Linked DNA regions of Homo sapiens. Changing the gene in region 1 together with any one later gene gives a genetic interaction. Each region holds a gene or a part of one and is shown in the gene's direction. Other genes may lie near its edges. The genes, in order: CTNNBL1, POLD1, SDHC, DNTTIP2, PSMD1, KCTD10 and DCTN2.

What was found.
Region 2: changes in CTNNBL1 (region 1) and POLD1 together harm fitness less than expected from each alone (positive genetic interaction), as found in Homo sapiens cells (one large-scale study listed by BioGRID).
Region 3: changes in CTNNBL1 (region 1) and SDHC together harm fitness more than expected from each alone (negative genetic interaction), as found in Homo sapiens cells (one large-scale study listed by BioGRID).
Region 4: changes in CTNNBL1 (region 1) and DNTTIP2 together harm fitness less than expected from each alone (positive genetic interaction), as found in Homo sapiens cells (one large-scale study listed by BioGRID).
Region 5: changes in CTNNBL1 (region 1) and PSMD1 together harm fitness less than expected from each alone (positive genetic interaction), as found in Homo sapiens cells (one large-scale study listed by BioGRID).
Region 6: changes in CTNNBL1 (region 1) and KCTD10 together harm fitness more than expected from each alone (negative genetic interaction), as found in Homo sapiens cells (one large-scale study listed by BioGRID).
Region 7: changes in CTNNBL1 (region 1) and DCTN2 together harm fitness less than expected from each alone (positive genetic interaction), as found in Homo sapiens cells (one large-scale study listed by BioGRID).

What each region holds. Positions count from the first base shown.
Region 1 is NC_000020.11:37,700,530-37,704,029, forward strand, and holds part of CTNNBL1 (beta-catenin-like protein 1), read left to right. Parts: intron 1-3,500. UniProt on the Homo sapiens protein: Component of the PRP19-CDC5L complex that forms an integral part of the spliceosome and is required for activating pre-mRNA splicing.
Region 2 is NC_000019.10:50,408,347-50,411,846, forward strand, and holds part of POLD1 (DNA polymerase delta catalytic subunit), read left to right. Parts: intron 1-360; coding exon of another isoform or gene 361-438; coding exon 439-555; intron 556-775; coding exon 776-889; intron 890-1,172; coding exon 1,173-1,320; intron 1,321-1,594; exon of another isoform or gene 1,595-1,678; intron 1,679-3,500. UniProt on the Homo sapiens protein: As the catalytic component of the trimeric (Pol-delta3 complex) and tetrameric DNA polymerase delta complexes (Pol-delta4 complex), plays a crucial role in high fidelity genome replication, including in lagging strand synthesis, and repair.
Region 3 is NC_000001.11:161,359,381-161,361,543, forward strand, and holds part of SDHC (succinate dehydrogenase cytochrome b560 subunit, mitochondrial isoform 1 precursor), read left to right. Parts: intron 1-2,163. UniProt on the Homo sapiens protein: Membrane-anchoring subunit of succinate dehydrogenase (SDH) that is involved in complex II of the mitochondrial electron transport chain and is responsible for transferring electrons from succinate to ubiquinone (coenzyme Q).
Region 4 is NC_000001.11:93,872,707-93,876,206, reverse strand, and holds part of DNTTIP2 (deoxynucleotidyltransferase terminal-interacting protein 2), read left to right. Parts: intron 1-423; coding exon 424-562; intron 563-2,992; coding exon 2,993-3,088; intron 3,089-3,500. UniProt on the Homo sapiens protein: Regulates the transcriptional activity of DNTT and ESR1. May function as a chromatin remodeling protein. Part of the small subunit (SSU) processome, first precursor of the small eukaryotic ribosomal subunit.
Region 5 is NC_000002.12:231,168,367-231,171,866, forward strand, and holds part of PSMD1 (26S proteasome non-ATPase regulatory subunit 1), read left to right. Parts: intron 1-2,199; coding exon 2,200-2,346; 3' UTR 2,347-2,355; intron 2,356-3,500. UniProt on the Homo sapiens protein: Component of the 26S proteasome, a multiprotein complex involved in the ATP-dependent degradation of ubiquitinated proteins.
Region 6 is NC_000012.12:109,470,801-109,474,300, reverse strand, and holds part of KCTD10 (BTB/POZ domain-containing adapter for CUL3-mediated RhoA degradation protein 3), read left to right. Parts: intron 1-3,500. UniProt on the Homo sapiens protein: Substrate-specific adapter of a BCR (BTB-CUL3-RBX1) E3 ubiquitin-protein ligase complex. The BCR(BACURD3) E3 ubiquitin ligase complex mediates the ubiquitination of target proteins, leading to their degradation by the proteasome.
Region 7 is NC_000012.12:57,537,193-57,540,692, reverse strand, and holds part of DCTN2 (dynactin subunit 2), read left to right. Parts: intron 1-2,168; coding exon of another isoform or gene 2,169-2,174; intron 2,175-2,345; exon of another isoform or gene 2,346-2,440; intron 2,441-3,500. UniProt on the Homo sapiens protein: Part of the dynactin complex that activates the molecular motor dynein for ultra-processive transport along microtubules. In the dynactin soulder domain, binds the ACTR1A filament and acts as a molecular ruler to determine the length.

The sequences.
Region 1 (3,500 bases):
AATTACAATATGGGCAGGAGGTGGTGGAAAAAGTCTTCAAGAGGGAACCAGTTATGTTCCCAATATGGAAATGTACTTTTTTGATGCCTTCAGGCTTAGACATCTCATCAAGAAGTGTGCCCAGCAGTGCCTTGGCTGAGAAGTTTCTGCTGGCATAGGCGCATATATGAACTCCAGGGCACTCTCATTAAATCTGATTCCACAGATGTCTGGAAAAAGTTCTTACCTCTGAAGTTTTCCAATAAAGAATTCACATTTAGTATGGCTTGTGACATGAGATGTATTCTTTTTGAGGCAAATTTGAGGCTAAGGGACCCTTGGTTTTGGTGATATTGCAGACACCCACTCCTCTTGTCCTCTATCAGTAATATCTTAGCATATCTCTTGGATTGCAGGAGCTTACAGAAATATCTAAACTTGCTCCTTTCCCCCTCCTAGTTTTTTCTTTTGAAATAAAATTTTAAATGATAATAAAGTGATAGAAATAGTATTAAAGAAAATGCTTGAGAAGAGGAAAACTATTATCCTAATTCAATCAATATTTTTCTGTTCCCACAGTCCTTACGTATTTTGTGAGGCTAGAACCATTGCATATATACTACTTTATGTTCTATGTTTTTAATTTAACATTGCCAGGAATATTTTCTGTGTTTCTACATCTCCTTCATGTTATTTTTAATATTTGCATACTTTTTGCTTGAGTGATAGACCATTTTCCCTAAATTGTTCTTCTACAATTGGATGTTTAGGTGGTTTTCCGGTTTTTGTTCTTGGAGATAACATTGTAGTGAAGTGCTTTGTTCATGTAGCATTTTTTTCCTTCCCATCTGTCATTAGTATTTACCATGTGCCATCTCCTGTGCCAAGTATTGCATGCACTAAAATTATTATGACATGGACCATGGACATTAAAGAAGAATTCATAATGTAAGGAGCAAGACAGACATTTAGAAAACTAACTCTATGAATAAAAGTATTATGGGAGCACAATGGAAGGAACGGTTGGATATGGAAAGGGGATATATCGATGGGGATGGATTTGGTTTGGTCATTGAAGAAAAGGGAGATGACACTGGAATCCTAGCCTTGATGAATGGGTAGGGATTCTGTGGGTGGTAAAGGACACTGGGGACAGTGATTCTTGACTGGCATTATTAAGAGCAAAAGCAGGGTAGTGAAATGTTCAAAGCATAGGGTAAATGCAGCAATGGGTAAAAAGCAGGGAGTGGTCGGAGACGATGGGGGTCATCTCAGCTGCAGATGTGTGGCGTAATACATCGTACGCTCATCTCAGCTGCAGATGTGTGGCGTAATACATCGTACGCTCATCTCAGCTGCAGATGTGTGGCGTAATACATCGTACGCTCATCTCAGCTGCAGATGTGTGGCGTAATACATTGTACGCTCATCTCAGCTGCAGATGTGTGGCGTAATACATCGTACGCACGTGGAATGAATCATTGGTTGTTTTACAGTGCTAACAGTATACTGTTTGTGTGTGTTCCAATTTTATTACAACCTTTTTTTAAAAAATAGAATCAGGGCCTCCCTGTGTTGTCCAGGCTGGTCTTGAACTCTTGGACTTGAGCTATCCTCCTGCCTCAGTCTCCTAAAGTGCTGGGATTACAAGCGTGAGCCACTGTGGCTGGCCCCAGTTTTATTACAATCTTGATAGTACTAGTTCATAATTTATTTTTTCCACTAATCTACTAGGTATATTAAATACTAGTTCAAGGTTGCTTTATTAAGCATTATTTTCTTCTTGTGTGAGTTTATCATTTGTATTATTATGTGCCTCATAAGGTAGTCATTGTAATTTCGTAATTGAGTTTTTCTGTTATATGGGTTTTTTGGTTGTTGTTGTTGTGTGTATAAGAAACATTACTGAAAATCTGAAAACTGGTGCTCAGATACATCCTTCATTCTGTGAAGGCCTCATCCCAGTAGCCCTAAGAATATGATTCTAATCATGAAGTCATTTTATATAGGCTCTTTTTGCATGTCAGTTTAGTACATTTTGAAGTTACTTTTTGTTGGAAGTGTGACTCTAACAGATAAGGAGGACCAGAACAGATACAGAGCTATTCTCATTGATAACATTTCAGACTGTTTTTCTCTTTCATCTCATGAGTGATTTTTTTCCTTAAGTTCACTTCCTCCCTCTGCGTTCTTCTCATCATCTCTTTCTTCTGGCCCATTCTTCTCACACTTACAAAACACATTCTATTTATATGCCTCCTTACACACACTTTTTACTAAACTGTAGACTTAGAGGCAAGGACCAGCACCTAGCAGAGCATCTCAACTGTAGTTAATGTCTAATACATGGTTGTTTAATGATTGAATGAACTGGGACATGCCTTTGTATATGCCCTGGTTGTTTCCCCTTCTGGAAAGCTCTTGTTCTACTATCTTGTTAGCTTGTTGGCCTACATCTCTGTGCTTTCATGTCAGACTTCAAGAAAATTGGGTTCACAACTGATACTTCAGTTGCTTAATCATTTTCCTCTTCTTTATTATCATATCTTGCCACTCTTGCTACAAAACCTATATTCTTTGCTTTTTAACTTTTTATTTTGAATTTTAAACTTAGAAAAAATTATAAAAATAGTAGAGTTTCCGTATATTCCTCATCCAGCTTCCCCTAAAGCTAACATCTCATATAACCATTATGTAAAGATCAAAACTAGGGAATTAACATTCGTGTAATACTAGTAACTAAACTGCACACTTAATTCACATGCCATCAGAGATGTCTGGTCATTTTTCTGTTCCAGGTTTCTATCCAGGATCCCACATAATGTTTGTCATATTTCCTTAGTCTTCCGTTATCTTTCATGTTGAAGAGTACTGGTCAGCTATTTTGTAGAATGTCCAAAACCTACATTCTTGAACTTGTCAGTGCTGTCTTTTGCCAAAGATTTTCTTGGGCCTCATTATTCTGGAATCTTCACTAGAATTTGACTCTGTAACTCTCTTCTTCATCATTTTAGAAGAACTCATTCATTCTTTTCCTTTCAGCATCTTTTTGCAGACAGCTCTTAGTTCACCGTCCCTGATTAATGTTTCGTGTGTGTACTGAACATTCTGGCCAGATGTTCAGATATCACATAATTCTCTGCTTCCTCCCCTGCCTATCCCCATGGCCAGCTTTGCATTTCAGTCAGGGGTGTTGATGTTCAGCAGACTTGAAAGGAGCCTTGGAACTATTTCTCAAAGATGAAACGGCTCAAAGATGAAAGACAAGGTTCTTTACTTTTTTTTTTTTTTTTGAGACAGAGTTTTGCTCTTGTTGCCCAGTGCAATGGCATGATCTCGGCTCACTGCAACCTCTGCCTCCTGGGTTCAAGCGACTCTCCTGCCTCAGCCTCCTGAGTCGCCGGGATTACAGGCATGTGCCACCACGCCTGGCTAATTTTGTATTTTTAGTAGAAACGGGGTTTCTCCGTGTTGGTCAGGTTGGTCTCGAACTCCTGACCTCAGGTGATCCACCTGTCTCG
Region 2 (3,500 bases), on another chromosome or scaffold:
ATAAAATAAAATAGTAGATTAATTATATATATTATTTTTCTTTTTCTTTTTCTTTTTTTGACACAGGGTCTCACTCTGTCACCCAGGGTGGAGTGCGGTGGCATGATCTTGGCTTACTCCACCTCCTAGGCTCAAGCAATCCTCCTGCCTCAGGCCCCTGAGTAGCTGGGACCACAGGCGTGCACCACCACACCTGGCTAATTTTTAAAATTTTTTTGTAGAGATAGGGTTTTGCCATGTTGCCCAGGCTGATCTGAAACTCCTGAGTTCAAGCGATCCTCCTGCCTCAGCCTCCCAATGTGCTGGGATTGCAGGAGCGAGCACTGCTCCCAGCCAATGAATGATTTTTTTTTTTTAAAGGGTGAGGCCACAAGACAGGGCGGGGGCGGCATGGGAACTCCTAGCCCTGACTCCCGGCCGCGGCTGCTCCCCTCCCAGGTACTACGACGTCCCCATCGCCACCCTGGACTTCTCCTCGCTGTACCCGTCCATCATGATGGCCCACAACCTGTGTTACACCACGCTCCTTCGGCCCGGGACTGCACAGAAACTGGGGTATAGTGCCCAATTCAGCATGTGTCCCCCGAGGCCCATCTGGGCCTTCCCTTGGGGGGCTCAGTCTGGTGGGGGGCATAGGCACAGGCCCAGAGATAGTAGGGAGTGGAGGGGTGCTTGAGGGGCCTGCGTGTGCTCATGGCCAAGGCCAGGACCGTAGGGCAGAGGTGGGCTGGAGCAGGAGGGTGGCCGGCAGTCACCCCAACATCTTCCAACCCAGCCTGACTGAGGATCAGTTCATCAGGACCCCCACCGGGGACGAGTTTGTGAAGACCTCAGTGCGGAAGGGGCTGCTGCCCCAGATCCTGGAGAACCTGCTCAGTGCCCGGAAGAGGTGAGCCCTGGAGATCGCCTGCTTGGAGCTCAGACCTGTTGGGGCCTCTGGGCAATCCCTGTCCCTCACTGGGACACCCCAGGGCTGCCCAGCCACCCTGCCCTCAGCTGTGCGTGAATTAGCACAAGGCATCCCCTCCTGGCAGCTTCCTTTTGCCCCCTTGGCCAGAAGCTTCTGTGCAGTGCACAGTACGCCCAACCGTACATGGCACTCACTTCCAGAAAGGAGCCCTGACCAATGCCCAGGTGCCGCCTGAGTGTGCTTTCCCCGTGTTCCCTCGCAGGGCCAAGGCCGAGCTGGCCAAGGAGACAGACCCCCTCCGGCGCCAGGTCCTGGATGGACGGCAGCTGGCGCTGAAGGTGAGCGCCAACTCCGTATACGGCTTCACTGGCGCCCAGGTGGGCAAGTTGCCGTGCCTGGAGATCTCACAGGTGGGCACTCGGGCCCCTGGAAGGCAACTGGGGGCAGGTGGGCCCCCTGTGTAGGAGACCAGGGCTCCATGTGGGGGACCTGTATCCAGAGGACTGGGCACCCCAACTCACTGGCCTTCTAGAGAGAGGATGCCAATGTGGCTTGAGCAATTGGTCCATTCCTTCACTCAGCAAATGCCTACTGAGCACACACTGTGGTCAGGGCTCACTCTGTGCCCTGGGGATACAGAGGGGAACAAAATGGATGAGAGCTCCTGTCCCTGTCATCTTGCAGCCCAGTGGGGACACTGACAGGTCTGTGTAAACGTGTTTAGGACACAAGTGGCGCTACGAGCTTTGCAGCCGGATAAAGCAGGAGGTGCGGACTGTCGGGGAGTGATGGGGCTGGGCGGGACTCACCCCTCTCAATAGGCGACGCTCACACAGAGGCCAAGGGACGTGGGGAGGGAAGCCATTCACCGTCCCCACGGCAGCGTCCCGGTCTGCCTACCCACGGCAGCTCTGCTGCTTGAACAGAAAAACAGATTCTTTGAAACCACAGAGGGCCTGAGTTTCCGAGATTGCCAAGCTGGGGTCAGTGCCCCAGCTCCTGGCATATGAGGGCCTCGGAAGGGTCTTCCTGTCCAGCCTTCTCCCCTGGGACTTGAGTCTTGGCCCATTCCAGGCCAGTAGTTGTGCTGCTCTGCTTGGTTACCTCTAGCCACGGGGAGCTCCCTCTCTGGCTGGGCACTGCGCCACTTTTCACAGGGCTCTGGGTGGAAGGCTTGGATGAATTCTCAGTGGGTGGGGCCTTTGCACACACCCACCCACCCGCAGTTCTGGGGGTCCCAAAGACCACTTAGGTTCAGTGATTCACTAGAAGTACTCAGAGAGCAGAAAAGCTGGTTCTCATGGTTATGATTTAATACAGCAAAAGGACACAGATTAAACTCAGCAAAAGAAAGAGGTGCACAGGGCAGGGTATAGGAGGGACCAGGCGTGTCTTCCAGTTGTGCTCTCCCAGTAGAGTTGCCAGGCTGGCCCTCCTTCCTCCCAGTTTTGATGCGTGCCTGCACACATGCAGCATTGCCAACCAGAGGCTCTCACCCAAGCTTTGGGGTCCAGGGTTTTTCTTGGGTGTCAGTCCTATAGGCATGGAGCACCCTGTGACTGGCCTTAGTGACTCCATCATCCCCAGGCCCCTCAGCAACCCCCAGAGGTCAAACTGATACTGCATGGCCCAGGGCCCTACCATAAACCATGTTAGTGTCAACTACCTGGTGTGGTTCAAAGTCCCAGGTACACAAACACCTTTTTTTTTTTTTTTTTTGAGACAGAGTCTCACTCTCTCACCCAGGCTGGAGCGCAGTGGCACAATCGTGGCTCACTGCAGCCTCAACCTCCGGGACTCAGGTGAGCCTCCCACGTTAGCCTCCCAAGTGGCTGGGACTGCGGGCACGTGCCACCTATTTTTGTTATTTTTTGTAGAGATAGGGTCTCGCCATGTTGCCCAGGCTGGAACAGAGACACTGTTATCAGGCGGGATATTCTAGGGGCTTAGACTACCAGGAGCCAGGCAAGAGCCAGACCTTTCTTTGCACAAAGTGAATCGCTCACTGCATGCTCCCAACTCCCCTCTGCCTTTCACAGTCCCCGGCTGCCTCCCCAGCCTCCTTGGTGGAAAGGGGTGGCTGTGTGGACATCAGGCTCTAGCCCTGAAGCAGAGGCCAGGCCAAGAGAGCACAGCTTGGCCCTCCCCTGGGGCTGCCTCTTACCAATCCTGTGTCTCTGTCTTTTCTCTCTCAGCCGCTTCCCTCTGTCACTGTTCTGTTTCTGTCTCTTGACCTCTTTCCTTATTTCTGTCTCTCAAGCTTATGGGAGCAAGAGGTGGAATAATAAAAATGCAATGAATTGGCTGGGCGCGGTGGCTCACGCCTGTAACCCCAGCACTTTAGGAGGCCGAGGCGGGCGGATCACGAGGTCAGGAGTTCAAGACCAGCCTGGCCAACATGGTGAAACCCTGTCTCTATTAAAAATACAAAACATTAGCCAGGAGTGGTGGCAGGTGCCTCTAATCCCAGCTACTCGGGAGGCTGAGGCAGGAGAATCGCTTGAACCCAGGAGGCAGAGGTTGCAGTGAGCCGAGATTGCGCCAGTGCGCTCCAGCCTGGGCAACAGAGCAAAACTCCGTCTCAAAAAAA
Region 3 (2,163 bases), on another chromosome or scaffold:
TGGGGCAGTGTTCAGTTTGATTTAAAATGACTTTTTACTTCCCTGAGGGGGAGGCAGTAGAGAGGGAGGACATTTCCATTAATGACTTCCTATTCCACAGAACAAAGCTCTGTAAAGAAAATCAGCTGATCAGCTTCCTCTGTTCATATTTTGGCTCAGACAGAGACTTGCCCTATATTTGTCTTTGTCTCAATATGGGGGTAAGAGAGGGGAGGTTTTATAAAATTGCAGAACTTAGAGCTTTTCTGCCCTGGTTCTTGCCTGTGATGGTAATCTTTTTGTTGAGGGAAGTGAAGAACCTAAGGGTCCTTAAGTCTGCTTTTATTTTTTCTTCTAGCAAGTACTGGCTGTGAGTGTGGGACAGGATTTTGTGTTTTCTGTGACAGTCTGCAGTTTTTGGCCTCTGAACTTGATAGTTGACTTGCCAGAAGATCTAATGGGGGAGTGAGGAGTGAAAGAGTAGGATGTTATAGGGTCTGTGGCATTCTAGGGAATATCCCTGCCTACTACTGCTACCCAGTAGGACTCACTCTCTATAAAACATTGTCCTTATTTAAGCAAAACAACTCTTTGTGGAATCTGCTTGACTCCTAATCTCCTAGTTAGAAGCAATTTGAGGGTTGAGGTGGAGGCATCTTCTCATCTTGATTTTTTTTTTTTTTTCTGGGCTTCCATCTTTTCTCTGAACTGACTCCTAATTTAGGCAGTTTTACATTCAGACTGTGGGTGTATGTGTGTATGTGTGTGTTAAGGCGCCATGTATGTGGGAAGTGTGGAAAATGAAGACTGCTTTTGCCCCATGGGCTCATTTAGTGACTTATAATATAATATTAATATGTTAATATCCCTAAGACACAAGAGAGTCAAAATTAGTGTTTTGTTAAATGTGGGGCTGGGGGCATGGTAGCTCATGTCTGTAACCCTAGCACTTTGGGAGGCCAAGGCAGGTGAATTGCTTGAGCTCAGGAGTTCAAAACTAGCCTGGGCAACGTGGCAAAACTTCATCTCTACCAAAAATACAAAAAATTAGCTGGGCATGGTGATGGGTGCCTGTAGTCCCAGCTACTTGGGAGGCTGAGGCAGGAGGATTGCTTGAACCTGGGAGGTCAAGGCCTCAGTGAGCTGAGATTGTGCCACTGCACTCCAGCCTAGGTGACAAAGTGAGACCCTGTCTCAAAAAATTAAAAAAAAAAAAGTGGGGGTGGGTGGTGGGGTAGGGGCTGGGTGAGATGGCTCACACCTGTAATCTCAGCACTTTGGGAGGCTGAGGCGGGAGGATTGCTTGAGCCCAGGAGTTCAATACTAGCCTGGGCAAGACATAACAAGAGTCTATCTCTATTTTTTAGTATTAAAAAGAAAAGTGGGTTTTAACTCAATTGGTAGAAAACCAATTTAGTGGCATGCTACCAACAAAAAAAGAAATTTAAATAGAATAGAAAATATAGGCTGGGGCTGGGCGTGGTGGCTCATGCCTGTAATCCCAGCACTTTGGGAGGCTGAGGAGGGTGTATCACTTGAGGTCAAGAGTTTGAGACCATCCTGGCCAACATGGTGAAACCCCATCTCTACTAAAAATACAAAAATTAGCTTGGCATGGTGGCATGCGCCTGTAGTCCCAGCCACTGGCAGGGCTGAGGCAAGAGAATCGCTTGAACCTGGGAGGCTGACGTTGCTGTGAGCCAAGATGGCGCCACTGGAGTGGCTGGGTGCAGAAGTTCACGCCCGTAATGCCAGCTTTTAGGGAAGCAGAGGCAGGAGGATAGCTTGAGTCCAGGAGTTCAAGACCTGCCTGAACAATATAATGAGACCCCGTTCTCCACAAAAAGGAGAAAATATATGTTTTTTAATGAAGTTTATTTATATATAAAATATATAAATATATACTTGTATATATATGGCACCACTTAGTAATGGTAAATATTGTTTTATCAACTTTTGCTATATTATATATACATATCTATTGGGTTCCAGTTTTAAAGGTATTTCTTAGTGGAGTCACAGTCAAAACAAAATTGAGAAATAGTGTTCTAGATCTCAGAGTATCCTTTAGAATACTAGTCCTCTGATAAATAGAGTTTCCCTCTATAAAAAGATTCTGAGATTGACTGTATCTAGGAAATCAGGCATATTATATCTCTCTTTTGGAGATTCACAGTGTGCATT
Region 4 (3,500 bases), on another chromosome or scaffold:
ATAAAAATATGAAATGTTAGCCTGGGGAATGAGAAAATCACTGCCTTGGGTTCTTCATGGAATGGCTCATTCATTTGACATTATGGAGCCAGGTGTTGGGTGTGCACCTGTAGTCCCAGCCACCCAGGGAGGTTGAGGTAGGAGGATCACTTGAGTCCCAAGAGTTCAAGGCTGCAGTGGTCACTACTGCACTCCATCCTGGGCCAACAGTGAGACCCTGTCTCAAAAAATAAAATAAAATGATGAAAAATATATTTATTTAGAGTTTTTTTTCAGGAATTCCTCATAAAAATAAGATGCTTTTTTTTCTTTATTGTGGACAATACAAGGGAAGAGAAGAATAAGTGATTTTTTAAAATGCCATCTTATATGTTTCCATTTTGATTTAATTACTTGATCTTTAAGTGATGATTTCTTTTTCAGTCTGAAGTTGACAAGCAGCAGCATAGACCCTGGTCTGAGTATCAAGCAGTTGGGTGGTTTGTATATTAATTTTAATGCAGATAAACTACAGTCTAACAAGAGAACCCTAACACAGATCAAGGAGAAAAAGAAAAATGAGGTAAGTTAATTGTGCTGTTAGGTTTTCACAGAACTAACCAATCACTTTTAGAAATTAGTCCTTGGTAAAAGACTTAATTTTCCTACAGTGAAACCACATTGGCCTAATGTGTTAGTTTTTTCCTTCTCTCTAAAACAGTCATTTCTTTTTACAATAAAATCCTATCTATGAATGATAATGCTTTAAAAATAAATCAATACAGGGTCAGTGTTCCTCATCTTACACCCACCAATTATGATCCCAGGGGTTTTGTTTTTTTCCCTTTTCTTGCTATACTTTTAGTTCTTAAGTTCTTAACTAGTGTAGACTGTTGAGAATCTGAAAGCTGTGAATGCCTGCCTGCCTCTTCCACCCGGAAAAAAATGCACATGTGCATATAGACATTTTACATATAATTTCAGAAGGAATTACTGTTAAGGTAACTTTACCCAAACCCTTAGCTTTAGCCAACACCTTGCACTGTTTTCTCCTAAATCTATATTTTCTAGCCTTGATGCTTCTCACTGTCACTTTCAGACCTTTAAATCCAAGTACCTATTTGTTCATTTAGATGTCCTCAGGTACTTGACGTCACTAATTCCCCTTTCCCTGCCTGAACCAGGAATCCTCTTCTTGTATTCTTTTTTCTGGCTAATGAAACCAAACTCTCTTTTCCTTTTGTAGTCAGTCACCAAGCCTCTAGGGGAAGATATTTCTCTGCTTCCTCCTTTTCAAGCGACTGTCACCAGCTAGTGCAGGCCTTTGCTTCTCATCTGGACTACTCCAGTGGCTTCCTTATTGATCTTGTTTTCATCTTGTTCTTCAAGCCATCCTCCACACTTCTAGATTTCTCTGTCTAAAAACACAAATCCGGCTGGGCAAGGTAGCTCACATCTATAATCCCAGCACTTTGGGAGGCTGAGGCAGGAGAATTGTTTAAGCCCAGGAGTTTGAGACCAACCTGGGCAACATAGCTAGACCACATCTCTCCTCCCTGCCCCAAAAAACACACCACACACACAGATGTGACAGTATTCTCTTGAATCCTTCAAAGTACCTCTCTACCCCACCCAGCTGTCATCTGCTCTATTCTTGCCACTGAAGACTACTGTAGTTGCCTGAACTTACCCTGCTTTTCCCCAAGCAAGTGCAAAATAATTGATCGTTGCCCTTGGGGAATATTTTACCTCCAGTCCTTCTCACAACCCCTCTGTTTCCATAACATCTAGCATAGATCTGATTCATTGTTGATCATGTGATATATTAACTTACCATCTTTTCTTTATATTCCTAAAACAGGGTTTTTCAGTCTCAGCACTACTGATGTTTTGGGCTGCATAATTTTGTTGTGAGATGTTCCGTGCATAGTAGGATGTTTAACAGCATCCCTATCTTTTGCCCACTAGATGTCAGTAGCATTCTTCCTTATCCTCACCACCACCAAAAATGTCTCCAGACATTGCCAGATGCTCCCAGTTGAGAACCACTGTCCTTGAATGTACTACAGTACTTGACTCACAGCAAACTCTTAATCATTTGTTAAGTAAATATCATGCCCCCTTTTATGAGTGATAGGAAAGCCTAGACGGCTACCTATACCACACAGAAACATCTAGGCCTGAACCTGAATTGTGTGCCTGACTGTTAATTTCTGAGTTGATCATTTCAAATGTCAGTCCCAAATTAATGCTTGTACTATATTCCTGTAAACTATTTTGAGGGCTACAGAGCAGTCTTACTTGGTTCTTGTACTGAGAAAAATACTAATTAACCTGAGGTTCCTTTAGTCACACAGAGTTTTAGGAGAATATAATCATCCTAGTCAAGTAACAAAAGTACAGAAATCATTTAGGAAAAGATAAACAGATTTGACTGCACAAATTTATTTATTTATTTTGGAGAAATGGCGTTTTCTTATGTTACCCAGGCTAGTCTTGAACTCCTGGCCTCAAGTGATTGTCCTGCCTTGGCCTCCTAAAGAGTTGGGATTATAGGCATGAGCCATCGTGCCTGGCCTTTTTTTTCTTTTTTCTTTTTTTTTTTGGGAGGGAGCTGGGTTTGGGGGGAGACAGGGTCTCACTCTGTCACCCAGGCTGGAGTGAGTGGCACAGTCATAGCTTGCTGCAGCCTCAAGCTCCTGGCCTCAAGTGATCCTTCTGCCTTAGCGTCCTGAGTAGCTGGGACTACAGGTGTGTGCCACCATGCCCAACTAATTTCTTTTCTTTTTTTTTTTTTTTTTACAGTCAGGGTCTTGCTATGTTGACCAAGGTGGTCTAAAACTCCTGGCCTCAAGTGATCCTCCTCCCTTGGCCTCCTCAAAGCACTAGGATTATAGGTGTGAGCCACTTTGCCAGGCTGACTAAAAATTTTAAAACTTACAGAAGTTTAAACTGTTGAAAAACTTATATAACATTCTGACATTATTTTAAAACCAATTTTATGTTTTTATAGCTTCTGCAGAAAGCCGTCATTACACCTGATTTTGAAAAAAACCACTGTGTTCCACCATATAGTGAATCAAAGTATCAACTTCAGAAAAAACGCAGAGTAAGTACAGTGACTTAATTAAAATGCTTAGATATGTTTGGCTATATATTTTCAGCTTATACAACATAACTGCACAATTAAACTGTATCTGTTGGTCTATATATGAGTCCAAAGAAAATAATTACAGATTTCTAAGGGCTGTAAAATATAGTACCATAAACACATTATGTATAGATTTTCACATCTTTGCAGCCACAATAGTGCATCTATAAGTAGAGGTTTTTTAAAAAAATATATATATATATAGATTACTTCTATCTGCCATTTCGACTAGTTATCCAGAGAGCTTGAAGGAAAGTTGAGGATGGTATTCTAGTAATGTTACTGTAATATGGAGCACCCTGGCACATGGTAGGCACTAACTAAATACTTGTTGTATGAATGAAACAAAATTAAATAACTTGTAGGAGTT
Region 5 (3,500 bases), on another chromosome or scaffold:
ATCAGCATGATTCATAATAGCCATAAAACGGAAACAACTTAAATGTCTTATCAACTGATGAATGAATAATGTGAGATAATAATGGAATATTATTTGACCATAAAAAGGAAAGACTTACTGATATATGCTACAGTGTGTGTGAACCTTGAAAACATTATTTTAAGTAAAAGAAGCCAGACGTAAAAGACTGCATATGGTCTGGTTCCCTTTATGTGAAACATTCAGAAAAGGCAAATCTATAGAGACGAGTTAGATTGGTGGCTACCAAGGACAGGGGAAGGGGAGAATGGAGAGTGGCTGCTACTGGGCCCACAGTTTCTTTAGGTTGATGCAGATATTTTTGAATTAGATAGCAGAAGTATTAATAGCTGCACAAGTTTGTGAATGTACTAAATTGTACGCTTTGAGAGAATGAATTTTATGTTAATATATCTCATTTTAAAAAAGAAAACACTGCCTCTGTGTATGTGCAGTGACTCACTCCCCTACCCTCAGTGGCAAGGTCATGGGACCCTTCCTCAGACACTGCATTTGAAAGAGGCAGCTGTAGTTTTGGAAACAAGTAACATTCCTACCCTGCTTCCTGTCCACCATGAGGCAAGAGGAAGTGTTTCATTGCCTATATCTACAGTTGTAATTAGCCTCCCCAGAGAACAGAAAATCGTATATCTTATGCATAGAGGGTGTGAACTTTCCCACCAACATGTAAAGCATTAACAAACCTAGACCATGTATAGCTATAAACAGCCCTTTCCATGTGTTGATTTGGATTATTAGTTTTGGGATTTTTTTTTGTGTGTGTGTTACTGTTGTTTTTGTATGATGAGGCCTTCCTTTGATTAAGTTGGATTATTTCATTCCAGTTAAGCATGAAATAGCATAACCTGGATCCACATTTTCCAAAAAATAGAAAGTCCTCATGTGAACGTGGATATTTTCTTCTGTTTGGTAGGAGATTCATCTCCATTTGGTCCATTAGGTTCAAGTAAACTTTTAGGCTATGGAGGATTAGGACAGTGGCCCTATGCTCCATTCTGGGAGTATTGGCAGTAAGGGCAGGGTCCATTCATAAAATGGATCCTCTTCAAGGAAAGCAAACTTTTTAAGGGAAGGGGTTGTAGAAAAATGTATAGATATGTGTGTGTCAGGAGAAGGGAAATAGTTCGGAGTTCACGAAGCACACCAGTTTTATAGCATGGCAGGGCAGAGTTCTGATGAGTAAAAATTGGATTAGGTTGAACTGCAGAGATGCTTATACATACGTGAATCATTTAACTAATGTACTTGTGCTTCTTTTCCTTCCCAGTAATGTGCTTTGGTAGAAATATGCTTTTTCCAGATGTGCCCTGCCACTGTTGACTGATTTAATTACATAGAGCAGCTTTCCATTTCCTTTGACACAGGCAAGCAAATAGAATAAGATTAGCACACTAGAGAGGGGTGAATAGTTTAGTGTTTGAATTTACCTTCTGTAATATGTTTGGGAGAGGGCTTAATAGAATTGCTGCTACAGTCTACTTCCCTTTTGTTTCCCATGTATTTTTTCATCGGCTTGCATCACGTGGATTTATAGATTAAAGTGAAAAACCCGGGATATCTGTGTTATTCTCTCCATCATTCTGAAATTGCTGGAGAAAAAATTGGCTTTTAATTTATACACTCTCGTGTTCAAAATGATTATCATCTCACAAATCATACAGTGTGCATTAGACTGCTTCTCAAACTTCAGTGTGCATCAGATTGACTGGGATCTTGTTAGAATGCAGATTCTGCAGATCTAGGGTGGGGCCAGCTTTTCTGCATTTTTAACAAGCTCCAGATGATAATGATGCTTCTGGCCCAGGACCATATCTTGAGTAGGAAGGAATTAGGATACTATATTTGGACAGTAAACATTCTTCCTGCAGTGAGACTGAGGCTGGTAGTCAAGGCCATGGCTGGGAAATAACTATTCTTAAATTGGGATGCATCATCCAAGTAGAACAGCATCACATGTTATACCATCTAGAGCTACTGGGTTAAGTTTGCAAATACTTCGTATAGATCACAGTTATCTTTATCCCAGTAAAGTTCTACTCCAGTTTTTCACTTCCAAATCATTTAAGTAGTTTTAAAGTACCATTTAACAAGTATTTACTCTAGATTGTGGAGCACGCTTGAAATATGAGTGTACGCTTCTGCACGCCCCTGTGTTTCCAGCTCTCTATTGGAGGCATCATCATTCTGAAGGATACCAGTGAAGACATTGAGGAGCTGGTGGAACCTGTGGCAGCACATGGCCCAAAAATCGAGGAGGAGGAACAAGAGCCAGAACCCCCAGAACCATTTGAGTATATTGATGATTAAGGGCCAGAGGTGCGTGTGCAACAAAATTATGAAGGGAAACTTCTTTGTCAATACTTCACAAATGTTTTTTGCAAGGACATCATCTCACGTTTTTCCTTCCTTTTGTGTTTAATCCTTATTTACCTAAACAGTATTAAAACTTCCCCGTTTCAACCTTTTTCTGCATATATAACCACAAATTCCTTTTTCTTTCCTCTTTGACTCGTACTCTACTCACGTTATTCAAAGTGGCTGGTCTGCAAACTATTTTTATAGGTCCATAAGGAGATAGGAAGCTTACTCCAGAATCTGTCTGCTCAACGCTTCTTTCATCAAGAAAGTCTTCCCCAAAACATCAGCTGAACTGCAGTTTGCTTAGTGATAGAGCTGATTTACATTCTGATGTAAGCTTCTTGTTGTGGATCAGTTATAGTTGTGGACTGGCACTGGCCCATAGGTGACACTTTTGAGTAGCACAAATATAGGCTTCTCACTGATTTTTCTCTCTCCCCATCTCCTTCGACAGTATTTTTGGCATAGAAGCCTTAACATTCATTCATTCTATGATGGTGCTATTGAATATCTACTGTGTATAAGACATAGTGCTTATAGGGACTTTGAGGTCAGTTAGACTAACCACAAGGCTGTGTCCATTGACAAAGATCATTTACTATATCAGTGTCTTAACAGTGTTGAAAGGGGTCTTTAGATGGGAAAGTTTGGAGTAATCTAATTTCATGAAATTGTCGTTCTTCATTTCCCCATTTTCTTTTGAGTGTTCATCACATATTTGAAGACATTGTGAGACATAATCAAGGTTTCCTAATTCCACCCAAGCACAAACACGTTTTCAGACAATTTTTTTTTTTTTTTTTTTTTTTGAGACGGAGTTTCGCTCTTGTTGCTCTTGGCTGGAGTGCAATGGCGCAAACTTGGCTCACCGCAACCTCCGCCTCCTGGGTTCAAGCGATTCTCCTGCCTCAGCCTTTCGAGTAGCTGGGATTACAGGCATGCGCCACCACACCCGGCTGATTTTGTATTTTTAGTAGTGACAGGGTTTCTCCATGTTGGTCAGGCCGGTCTCAAGTTCTGGACCTCAGCTGATCCGCGAACCTCGGCCTCCCAAAGTGCTGGGATTACAGGTGTGAGCCACCACGCCCGGCCAATTCATTCTA
Region 6 (3,500 bases), on another chromosome or scaffold:
ACCAATTTTGCTGTCTCCTGCTTCACCTCCCCAGCTTCATTGGTAATGAAATCAAACCTTTGAAACAAGTCAAAAAGCAGGATCCTGGCCAGGCACGGTGGTTCATGCCTGTAATCTCAGCACTTTGGGAGGCCGAGGCAGATGGATCACTTGAGGTCGGGAGTTCGAGACCAGCCTGACCAATGTGGAGAAATCCCGTCTGTACTAAAAATACAAAATTAGCCAGTCGCGGTGGCTCACACCTGTAATCCGAGCACTTTGGGATGCCGAGGCAGAAGGATCACCTGAGGTCAGGAGTTTGAGACCAGCCTGACCAACATGGTGAAACCCCATCTCTACTAACAATATAAAATTAGCCAGGTGTGGTGGTGCATGCCTGTAATCCCAGCTACTCGGGAGGGTGAGGCAGGAGAATTGCTTGAACCTGGGAGGCAGACGTTGCGGTGAGCTGAGATCGTGCCGTTGTACTGTAGCCTGGGCAATAAGAGCAAAACTCAGTCTCAAAAAAAAAAAAAAAAGCAGGATTCCAGTAGCAACAGTGGGGAGAGTCCTCCCTAGAGAGGTTTGCTATGGTGGGGGTCTCTGGTCCACTGCCTCGTGTCCTAAGTTCACTGTAACTTGGGCTCAAGGACACGAATGCTGCCAAAACTTTTCCCCCAAGGGCCTTGCCTACTATTAGGTTGACTGACCTTTGGAGAGGGTGAGCTCTGAAAAGGTTTAGAGCTTTTGTTGCCTAATCTGTAGTCTCATTCTAGATCAGGATGGCTCCTGCCTTTATCTCTTAGTCATGCCGTCTGCCATTAGAGCTGGAAACAGTTTCCAAAGAGAAGATAGTTTGAGACTTCGGGAGCATTCTCAAATCATCATAATTTGAGTGTTTGGAGTGTTTACTCAGAGCTAGGGAGCCCTGTGAGGGAGGTGAGGCTTTTGGCCCTGGACACAGCTACTAAGTGGTAGGGCTGGGGCCTTATGCACAGGTCTAACTCCAAACCCTTAGCCACACTTTACCTCGCGACTATTTTCAGGGCTTTTTGTACTTTTTAAAGAAGGGAGGTGAGGCTGGCCTTTCTCAGCTTATGTATCATAGCTCTCAATCTACTAGGTGTGATGGTCTCTGGGCCAGCCACCACTTGCCCATGTCCTTCACTGGCCCCGTCACTGACTCAACTCCAGCTTGAGAGTGACTGACCCTGATGGGGCTGTGGCATCCAAATCCACAAAATGGAAATAACTATAGCTGTCTTCCAGCATTGTTTGAATTTGTAAAAGGCATGTGGTAGAAATGCAGTGGTCAAGGGACACCGAGGGGCTTTCTGGAGGCATGGAAATGTTCCAAGACAGCTTGATTGGAGTGGGGGCTACACAGGTGCAAGTATTGACCAAAACACATCAAACTGTACACTTAAAGTATACTTCATTATGTGCAAATTATCTTTAAAAAGGTATTGGAAAGCCAAAAAAGGTACAGTCATGCGCACATAATGACAGTTTGGTTAGTGACAGACTGCGTATATAACAGTCCCTTAAGATTATAATGGAACTGAAAAATTCCTGTAGCCCAGTGATAGTGTAGCTGTCATTTCAGTGGTAGCACAACATATTACGTGTTCGTGGTGATGCTGGTGTAAACAGAACTACTTTGCTGCCAGTTGTATAAGTCTAGCACACACAATTATGTACAGTACATAATAGTCGATAATAGTAATGAACTTGATAGATATATCACTGGTTAATGTATTTACTATTAATGGTTATTTTAGAATATACTCCTACCTGCCTTTTTTTTTTTAAGTGAAAACTGTAAAACAGCCTCAGGCAGGTGCTTCTGGAGGTATCCCAGAAGAAGGGATTCTTACGGGAGATGACAGTTCCATGCGTGTTACTGTCCCTGAAGACCTTCTAGTGGGACAGGATGTGGAGGACAGTGATACTGATAATCCTGACCCTGTGTAGGCTAGGCTAATGTGTGTGTATTTTGTAGTTTTGGATAAAAAAGTTTAAAAAGTAAAAAAAGAGAAAAAAGCTTATAGAATAAGGATATAAAGAAAGAAAATATTTTTGTACAGCTGTGCAATATGTGTTTTAAGCTATGTTATTACAAAAGGGTCCAAAAGTTAAAAAAAAATTAAAAAGTTTTTAAAGTAAAAAGTTACAGTAAGCAAAGGTTAATTTATTATGGAAAGAAAAAATATTTTAAATAAATGTAGTGTGGCCTCCCTGTGCAGTGTTGATAAAGCTACAGTAGTGTACAGTAATGTCCTAGACCTTCACATTTACTCACCACTCGCTCACCCAGAGCAATTTCCAGGCCTACACACTCCATTCATGGTAAGTGTCCTATACAAGTATGCCATTAGAAAAAAATCCTTCATATCACATATTTACTGTGCTTTGACTTTACATGAAGTATACTTTATGTACTTTTTTGTCTGTTTCATGATAGGCACCTTCCAAAATGCTAGATCGTTTCCCATAACAAGCATTTATTATATAAAATTAGATCTGAAAGGGGTGCTTAAAAAGTATTTGCATTTTGGGGCAAATTTCCTCAACACACACCCTCACCCATGACCGTAAGCCTTTTCTCCCCCCCTTCGAGGTCTTCACAGTTTTTGGAAACTTTTATTTCCATAAGCTACTCCTGTCATCCCATGGACAAAGGATTTTTCTGAGGGAGGTGGCTGGTCATAACTGTTAGTGTGAGGTCTCTGGGGACTGATTTCAGAGGACAGCTAGAAAGGAGGGGTAACTGCTTCTTCTGGACCTCTTTTGTGTTTGGCATCGGGCAGCAAAGACCCCAGGTGAGCTAAGCCTGAGCTTTTGAAAACATATTTTCTTGTGACTTTTCTTGATGAAAAAGGAACTGTTTCTTGAGAAAACATTTCTTTCCAGGAGGCCGTTCTTTCTCTGTTTCACTCTGCAGGGCCCTGACATGGCAGGTGATATCCAGGCCACTGTTGGGTGCCATGGAGTTGGGGAGAGTTGGCCAGAAGAGTTGGATAACCTTGAATTGAATATTGTCCATGACTGTCGCGTTGCTTCTGCTGTTGCAAGCTGCCTCCCTTTACTCCCAGTCCCATTTACAAAAATAACGTTTGTGTTTTACCAGTTATAGTTGTAGTACCCATTCATTATAGAAAATCTGGAAAAGCTAGACAATTCTTTTTCAGTTTCAGGGAATAGTTCAAACAAGTTATGTGCTGTCAGTGCCCTGCAGCCAAAAAGCACGAGGAGCATACCTGTAGTCAAGCAAAGTTGGGTTTATTTCCTTGTTGCATTGGGGTGGGGAAGAACTGTGGGACATCTCAGAGAAGGGCTGTGGGCTTGTGTTGGGTGATTTGAGAGACAGTTCAGAGAAGTGGGGCTTTGCTCTGTGTTGGATGCTGCTGGGAAGCAGGGCTAATTCTGTGATTGGGTCTCAGTGATTCCTGACTTGAAAGCAGGAAGAATGGAAGGAGGCTAAACCTCTCATTGGTAAAGCAGCAGCTATAACTCCTATT
Region 7 (3,500 bases), on another chromosome or scaffold:
GTCATCATGGTTTTGAAGTACCCTGGCTGCAGTGTTGGCGTACAGCCTGAATAGGCTCAGAGAGTAACAGTGGCCACTTTCCCTGTCTGATTTAGAACCTCAGATCTTGCCCTCTGAGGCACAGCCACTTAGCCAAACAGCCCTGGGGGGTCTGGGAGTCCCTTAGTGAAAGAGACTGGGAGTCACGTACTAGGTAAGCTGGCACCCGGGGCCAGGGCACTTGAAATCTTCCAATCAAGGTGACTAGTACTACTCCAGGTTATGCAGGAATCATGCCTAAAATCTCATCAACCTTCAACCCACCCATAGGACAGACCTGGAGGTGGTATATACTATCTGCAAACTAATATACCACTTTTCCTTTTATTTGATTTTCTGTCCTCCCTATTCTGCCCAATCCGCATGGTTTGAAATTGAGCTTATGGCCCATTGTCTTCTTTCTCTCCTTGAGTTTCTCCCAAGCTGGTTTTAGCTTGGTGGGACAAATCAGAGAAAGGTATAGTGTGTGTACTTCTCCTTTGTGTTTGCATGTTTGCACTTATGGGTGCTTACACCCACTCTATGCAGAGACATCCCAGCCTCGACCACAGGATCTGGAGCCACCTCTACCCTGAGCTGAAAGAGGAATTTTTTTTTTTTTTTTGAGACAGTCTCACTCTGTCACCCAGGCTGGAGTGCAGTGGCATGATCTCAGCTCACTGCAACCTCCGCCTGCCGGGTTCAACTGCAACCTCCACCTCCCGGGTTCAAATGATTCTCCTGCCTCAGCCTCCCGAGTAGCTGGGATTACAGGCGTCCACCACCATGCCTGGCTAATTTTGTATTTTTAGTAGAGATGGGGTTTCACCATGGTGGCCAGGCTGGTCTCGAACTCCTGACCTCAAGTGATCCACCCACCTCGCCCTCCCAAAGTGCTGGGATTACAGATGTGAGACACCGTGCCTGGTGGAAAGAGGAATCTTGGCTGGGACCCTAGCATCGTCTAGGGAACAGAGAGGTTGTGATTAAGAGGTATCTGGATGAAATCTTGGTGAAAGGAAGCACTTGTTTTTAATCCCACCATGGTTTTTCATATGCATACAACCATCCTCAACCATCTGCCCATCAGCAGAGCTCCTAGAAAGGCAGGACATACCACTGGATATCCCCTTCTGGCAGTTCTAAACCAGCCTTGCCCGGAAGTGGGAGCCTTATCTATGTGGCCCAGACTCAAATAAGGCCTCTTGGAAATACTCTCACCCTTCCCCTTTGTTTACCCTCCAACCCCTGTGAATCTTGTGAACAGAGGGTTGAAGAAACATGTTCTGCACATGTGCTAGTACCTGTGAATCTTGATGTCCCCTGGACCCTCTGTGTAAGTACATCATGGCAGAATTGCTCTAGATCCTTCGGAGCTGCAGGGTGAGTTACCAGCCACTCAAGGTGGAGGCAAACATGCCAGGCTGCACAAGGGACCAGGAGCAGCTCTGCCTCTTCCCTTGCAGGAGGAAATGAGAACGGGGCTATACTTAGGTACTTCATCATTCCTTTAACTCACCATCTGTACCTGACATATTTTGTTTTGTCTCACCTAAAGTCATATCAGACTTCCTACCTGATCACTCTCATTGTGACTGATTCTGCCATCCAAATGTCTAATTTTTCACAGCTAGAGAAACTAAGAGATAGGAAGACAAGGGCCATGAACTAAGAAGGGGAACTCCTCTCCTGAGAATTATTGACCCTCTATCAGCTACAAGTCTAAGAATTTCTAACTTCTGCTTCATCTTCTACCATTTCTAATAGCTTCCCCACCACCTCAGCCTTCTCTCCCCAGTTTCTTATTCCATGCCACTGGCTGGTAACATCTAACTCCTAGTTTTCAGATGATCCTAAACTGCTGCTGTTAATGGCAAAGCTTCATGACATCCTCACCACCAGAGGGAAAAGGGTCTCATGCTCTTCTTTCTCTTGGGGTATATGGTGACCCCAGCTGAAATTTCTTGGCCCCTAAATTTCGCTAGGCTCCCCTGGGGCCCTGTGGTGCAGTGTGTTGGAAGACTGTCATGTAGTGCATGTGACAATTTGCTAATAACAATTTTGTCTTTTTTTTCCCTCCCTCATCCCCATTCCCCCACTCCCTTTCCTTTTAACTCTTTTGATTTTCTCACCTCTGGGGAAACCACAAGGAGCTGGTAAGAAGCCTGACCTTTCATCTGCTTTTTAACGGGGTGTGCTATGATGAGCAGTTGTTTCTCTGTCCTTTAGACTCTACTAAATCTTTCATTCATCTATTCAGTCCCACACCCAGCCTTTTCCTATCTCACAAGTCACTGTAATTATACTGCCCCCAACTCATGCCCCAGATCTTCAAGACACTGCTGGAGTAGGTGCTACTGGAGGACTAGAGTGTGCTCCCGGGCCACAGCCTTGGAGAGGCTCCAGAGGATGCCAGCGCCAGGTAGCCCAACTGGCCCAGGACACTCTCCCACAGCAGGAATGAAAATGCTCTCTGTCCCTGTGACTGTCCAGAACCTCTGAGACTCACCGTCTATGTGTTGACCCTCTTCTACTCCCCGCTTTCCCTACTTAGGAACGTAAATAAGAAAGTAGGTTCCATCTGCATAGTGCCCGCCCATAATAAGGGCTTAACAAATGGTAGCTATGATTAATTTTTTTCCTGGGTCTGTAGGTTATGCCTCCCATTCCTCTTTTTTAAGAGGATTAAACAAAAGAGGATGGGTGGGATTGGCCTGGATTGGGGCTTTCACAGGGAGAAGTGGCATATTCCTGAGTATGAACTTCAGAGAAGATGGTTGTCTATCCTTAGCCTGAGCCCTTCCCAGTTGATAAGAGGCCAGAGATCACACAGCTATTAGATGGGTGGGTGTTCTGGCCGTAACATTTCAGAACAGGTTAAAGAGATAATCATTTGGGACTCAAATGTCTCTCCCCCCGGGCACTTGCATATGGGACATTGAGTCCTTTTGTTTTCCCTTGATCTATAGCTCTTACCCCTCTGCCCAGTAATTCCCTGAGGAAGAGGTAAAGATCAAAGTTGATACTTTGTCCTTTCCTTCCTTCTTCCCTTATTTTTAAAGCTGTCACCCACACTGATTCCTGCTCTAATAGCAGAGCAGAGATGAAGGAAGGAGCTTCCTTCTATCTGCTTTTCTTTCTCAATGATGTCCCACCATGTCCCCCTCACACCCTCTCCCCACATACCTACACACAGGCAGAGATTCTCAGTCCTGGCTGTAGGTTAGAATCACCTGGATATCTGGCCCTACCCCAGAATAATTCATTAGAATCTCTAGAAGTGGGCCCAGGCCTTTTTTTTTTTTTTTTTTTCTTTTCTCTCTCTCTCTTTTTCTTTTTTTGAGACAGGGTCTCACTCTGTTGCCCAGGCTGGAGTGCAGTGGCATGATCTCTGCTCACTGCATCCTCCACCTGCCAGGCTCAAGTGACCCTTCCACCTCAGCCTCCTGAGTAGCTGGGACCACAGGCACGTGCCACAATAC